Regions from separate parts of the Homo sapiens genome. Here region 2 is linked to region 1. Evidence: fine-mapped expression QTL. Tissue or cell type: whole blood. Region 1 holds a variant in brackets; the other region holds the start of a gene. All regions are shown on one strand. Distances are between the middles of the regions.

Region 1 (2,758 bases):
AGCACTTTGGGAGGCCGAGGTGGGTGGATCACCTGCGGTCAGGAGTTCGAGACCAGCCTGACCAACATGGAGAAACCCCATCTCTACTAAAAATACAAAATTAGCAGGCGGGGTAGCACATGCCTGTAATCCCAGCTACTTGGGAGGCTGAGGCAGGAGAATCGCTTGAACCCAGGAGGCGGACGTTGCGGTGAGCCAAGATTGTGCCATTTTACTCCAGCCTGGGCAACAAGAGCTAAACTCCGAAACTCTGTCTCAAAAAAAAGAAAGAAAAGAAGAAAGGAAGGAAGGAAGAAAGGAAAGAAGGAAGGAAGGAAGGGAGGGAGGGAGGGAGGGAGGGAGCATGGTGGTTGCCGGGGGCTGGAGAATTAGTGTTGAATGGCTACAGCGTTTCAATTGGGGAAGATGAGAAAGTTCTGGAGCTGCACAGTGGAGATGGTTCCACCGTAATGTAGATGTACTGTATACCACTGAGCTGTACACCTAAAAATGGTTAAAATGGTCAATTTTATGTTATGTCTATTTTACCACCAGTTTTTTTTTTTCTTTACATAGATGGAGAACTCACAGATTGGCCCACTGGCAAGGGTCCTATGAGGTTTTAGAGGTTTATAAACACAAGCTCAAATGAAAAATTACCCTAGAGTTTTCCCATGGTTAGCTGTGAGTACAGGAATATCTGCCCCCATCCCACCAAGAGGGCTTCAGAATAGAGAGAGAGGGTTCACTGAGTAAGGAGCGGCAGACTCCAAATAGACGCCTATTCCAGACCAGAGAACATCGTGAAAGAGGAGAGGACTGGAATAAGATGGTCAGAGAAGCAAAATGAGCTAAGGGGTTTGAAACAACAGAACAGAAACATTGTGGACCACCAGTGGTGCGGGACGTCTGGTGACAGCTTAGGTGACCAGTCCAGTGTGAAGCTGATAAAGGGGTATAATTACAACAGCTAACGTTTATTAAGCACTTACTGTATGTCAGGCACCACTATAAACGCTGCCCAGGCAATAGTTCGCTTTATCTTCACAACCACCATCTAAGGGATGTTATCATCCTGATCTCACAGATGAAAGAAAAACTGGAACATGCCCCAACGTAGAGTAGCAAAGACAGGATTTGAACCCAGGCAGTCCAGTTTCTGAGCAGAGCTCCTAACCATGAGGGTATGTGGCGTAAGGCAGGACAGTATGACATCCAACACAATGAGTTTATAGGTTTCTGTTTGTAGCTTCAACTCTCCAGCACCTCACCCCTCAAAACCGCCTTCAACATTTAGGACACAGCGTAAGTGTCTTTTTTTTTTGAGACGGAGTCTCGCACTGTCGCCGGTGGCGCAGTCTCGGCTCACTGCAACCTCCCCCTCCCGGGTTCAAGCGATTCACCTGCCTCAACCTCCCATGATGTCTTGATTCAAAAGCTCTGCTGCTCTCAACTGCACAGACTTGTCTTCAAGTCCAGCAATACTTCTCTGATTTTCCACTTATTTACCAAAATGACCCTGTATGCAGCTGACTGAAGTGTTACCGTGAGAAAACCATGTAATGTTCAAACGGGTTTTTTGATATTAAAAGAAACAGCAGTACCCCCTTGAGAAGTC[G/A]ACTTAGAGAAAGCTGGAGGCTCACGGCGGGGACAGGAAAGGCTTGTTTCTCACATGCCCGTGAAGTGATGTTTACACAAGACTCCAGCTTCAAAGCCCATGAAAGTGGGGGACACGCAAGTTGGTTTCTAAGGAAACATCCATGATCAGGGGAAAGAGGCGTCTCTGGCAAGGAGAACTATAATCTTTCTCCTGTACTTTAAACCAAGGCATGAGAAGATGAAAAGCCACGGAAGTTCCTCTAAGCTCCACAGACTTTCTCTGAATCCCTGTGACTGGCTGCTTTAATTCTGCCACCTTCCGTGCCTGGCTCTGCAAAGGTGCTCAGTAAATAAACGTTCATTGAATGAACAGACATTATGCACCCAGTGTACAAGTCCTTTGAGAAAAGGGGTCAAATCCCAATTCCCTTGAAATCCCGAGACATTTAATTTAATCAATGTTGAAGTAAAGTGTACAACAAAAAGTGCTGCATTTGGCAACACAAACACTAGAACCCAGTCCCCAAAGAGCAATAGAGAAATGGCCACCATGTAAGCACTGGGAAGCCAGCCAGCGGAGCTTGCCATCATCTGTCTAGCTTTTTTTTTTTTTTCCAAGACGGAGTTTCGCTCCTGTTGCCCAGGCTGGAGTGCAATGGCGCGATCCCAGTTCACTGCAGCCTCCGCCCCCTGGGTTCAAGCAATTCTCCTGCCTCAGCCTCCTGATTAGCTGGGATTACAGGCGCCCACCATGCCCAGCTAATTTTTTTTTTTTTTTTTTGTATTTTCAGTAGAGACAGGATTTTGCTGTGTTGGCCAGGCTGCTCTCAACCTCCTGGCCTCAGGTGATCCACCCACCTCGGCCTCCCAAAGTGCTGGGATTACAGGTATGAGCCACAGTGCCCAGCCCATCTGTCTAGTTTATATTCCATGCAGACTGTGCTGTAGATCCTCCTGGGCCCTACTGAGTGTGAAGTCTAGTGGAGGCCCAGCACCAGGGGAGCCAAAACAGGGATGCCTGGGCAGCATGGGAGAGCACAGAGAAGGGGCCCTGAGCCCAGACTTGGAGGCTCAGGTGGGCCTGGAGTGGTGGTTCAAAGGCCCAGGAAGACAGGGGGCAGAGGGGTTTGGAAGAGCACAATAAAGACACAGGAGCGGCCCAGCGCGGTGGCTCACACCT
Region 2 (2,626 bases), 220 kb after region 1:
GTCCCCTCCAGCTCGGGGGTGGGCAAAGCGCCCGGAGCCCCTACCTAATCGTGCAACCATGGAAACCAGCCCGCCGGCTGCCACAGGGCTGCCGACTCACCAGCCTCGCGCGCTGCCAGGGCAACCGTGAGACGGGACTTCCGGCTCCCGGGGAAGTCCCGCCCCTCTCCGCCGGCCGCTTTTGTAGCCGTGGGAGGCGGGGCTTCAGCCCAGGGCGGGGTCCAGCACGGCGGGGCGGGGCGGGACGGGGCGGAGCCTTCCCGAGCTGCGAGGTCGCTGTCTCCTTGCGCTCGCCACTGGCTCTCTCTGCGGCAGGTTTCCCTCCGGTTACCGTGACCAAAGGGGAAAGACGCCTGCCTCCCTGCAGGCCCCAAGATGTGCCCCAGGGGATGCGCTGACTGCAGCCTCCGCTCGGCTCTCCCTTGAGACTGCAATCACAGCCCTCCGTGCACACCTTCACCACAGGCCATTTCACCCGCGAAGCGGCCGAGTGAGGCGGTCATCCAGCTGGCGCTGATTTTTATCGCCCACAGCTCCTAGGACCTGTAGGCATCTAAGGCGGGGGCATTCGCCTAGAGCATGTTGCAGTTTGCGGCAACCTGGGCCTCTTGCGTTGTTGCGCAGGCAGATTAGTGCCCTGTTCCCAGCGTGGTAGCATTGTGGACCTCCTCTGACCCTAACTGGATACACTCTCCCTCAGAGTCCCCACAGCACATTATCTAGACTAGCTTTTGGCAGTCTTCTATTTTGTAGACGTCTAATCACCCCAGATAAAGTCCTTCAGAGGCAAGGCCAGTGTTGTGTACATCTTTGCACACTGCTGCGGGCGTGGGAAGTAATCTATTCAAAATGAATGAAATTCTTAAAACCAATCCATCCCCCCGCCCCCTTCACGCCAGCCCACCTATTTCCAGTATATTTCTGCTGACTGTCCCCACAAGGGCCCCTACCTCCTCTTTGTCCGGTCCTTTGATCTGGTCTCCGCACACCTCTTTTTCCCCAGCTTCCTCCTTTTGGTCTACCTTTTCTGTAGACATCTTCCTGACGAGCCTCTGTTGACTCTGGATCTTCCACTGAGTCACTTGTGGCTAAAACGTGAAGTGGCGATCCAGACGCTGATACCTGTGGCGCATCACATTTTCCTGGATATGGAAAATGGAGGGTCCCTGGGAGAGAAACGAAGATTCAGGTGCTAAGTGCTGTGTCAGAGTAGAGGGAGGAAAGGAGGAGGGGGGCGACTGCCCAGCTGATGTCAGATTTTCAAATGAGCAGGGTCCCCCGCAGCCAGTACAGACTCCACTGCAGGGGCCGTCATAGGCCCAGACCACGCCATTTGAGAGGGGGAGTCGGCCTTGGCCTCAGCTCTGTTGGGGAGGTCTCTAGCCCAGAGTCAGGATGCCTGCAATGGGGGAGGGGCAGGCAGTGAACTAGCGACAGTGGGGGTGTGCGCAGGGATGCAGGCAGCTAGGCTCCCCCACTGGCCAGGCAGTTGGTATGCTCCAGGATCTGAGCAGCTCCTTCTAGCATCCTTCATCCTTCAGGTACCAGCCATCCAGACAGTGCTTGAGCTGCAGAAACTGAGACCAGACCTCTGGCCTGGCCCTCCCCAGGGGCCTCCTTTCGTATAGTCACTGCTTCTGCATCAGATACTTTCAGCTGCAACTCCCTACTGGGTGGGGCACCCATTTCAGGCAGAAGGTTTTGGTACCCTCCACTGACCCTACACCCAGGGCTGCTACTGCCGCTTGTGGCTTCAGGTAAGTAATGGCCTGTTTTTCTCCTGTTGGGGCTCACTGGAGCAGACAGGGGTGATGTGCCCTCCTCATCAGGGTTGGTTGAGGTCTTCAGAGCTGGGAACACACATGGTTTGAAGGGCTGAAAAGCCTTAAATCATTTGTGTAAGGTTTAATGATCTGTGGCCCAGGCCATGAGGGAGTTTGGGGAGCACCTCATCCCACCCTATTTTTTTCCATGAGGAATACAGGGATGAGACAGTCCACTGGAGGAGGAGGAGGAGGATAGGAGGGGAACAAAATATTGGGGTATGACCACAGCCTTGTAAAGGTTGGTGTGGAGTGAGCATGGAGGGGGGCCTCCAGCTGAGACTGTGCTCTGAGAGGTCCCTCTTTTTTCCAGGATGAAAGGTGAGACCCCGGTGAACAGCACTATGAGTATTGGGCAAGCACGCAAGATGGTGGAACAGCTTAAGATTGAAGCCAGCTTGTGTCGGATAAAGGTAGGTGGGACCCTGGCTGGCTCCCATTAGTTGGCCAGGCTGTGCTGTGCTGCAGGTTCCCAAAGCTCAAGATAAGAGATGCGTTCTTTCCTTCACTCCCTGAGGTCAGGGGAGGAGTCTGGGGCTCTGTAGAGAGAGCTGTCCCCAGGCCTCTGGGGGGGATGAGGGAGAAGACAAGTCGTAAGGAGCCCTGGAGATGGCAAAAGAGAACCCATTTGGGGAGGGAGGCTGCAGTCCCCTTCAGAGGTCCTGGCTAACAATACCCTTCCTGGCTGTGTCCCAGGTGTCCAAGGCAGCAGCAGACCTGATGACTTACTGTGATGCCCACGCCTGTGAGGATCCCCTCATCACCCCTGTGCCCACTTCGGAGAACCCCTTCCGGGAGAAGAA

What was found. PIP is the estimated chance that this variant, and not a neighbour inherited with it, causes the effect.
Region 2: it holds the start of BSCL2, and the variant in region 1 is fine-mapped to the expression of BSCL2 in whole blood (TOPMed, PIP above 0.99).

Annotation. Positions count from the first base shown.
Region 1 is chr11:62,486,225-62,488,982 of GRCh38, forward strand. It overlaps a transcript of AHNAK not described here. Among named protein-coding and RNA genes, the nearest start is that of AHNAK, 59 kb to the right of the region's middle. The variant G/A (reference allele first, on the strand shown) is at 1,598.
Region 2 is chr11:62,706,159-62,708,784 of GRCh38, forward strand. It overlaps BSCL2 (BSCL2 lipid droplet biogenesis associated, seipin), which reads right to left and starts at 1,266. Exons shown (of 11, transcript NM_001122955.4): 1 at 951-1,266. The coding sequence starts at 1,037. It overlaps GNG3 (G protein subunit gamma 3), which reads left to right and starts at 1,518. Exons shown (of 3, transcript NM_012202.5): 1 at 1,518-1,757; 2 at 2,137-2,236; 3 at 2,520-2,626. The coding sequence starts at 2,138. It overlaps HNRNPUL2-BSCL2 (HNRNPUL2-BSCL2 readthrough (NMD candidate)), which reads right to left. Exons shown (of 24, transcript NR_037946.1): 14 at 951-1,166. RefSeq lists a silencer at 1-309 and enhancers at 1-650, 1,970-2,626.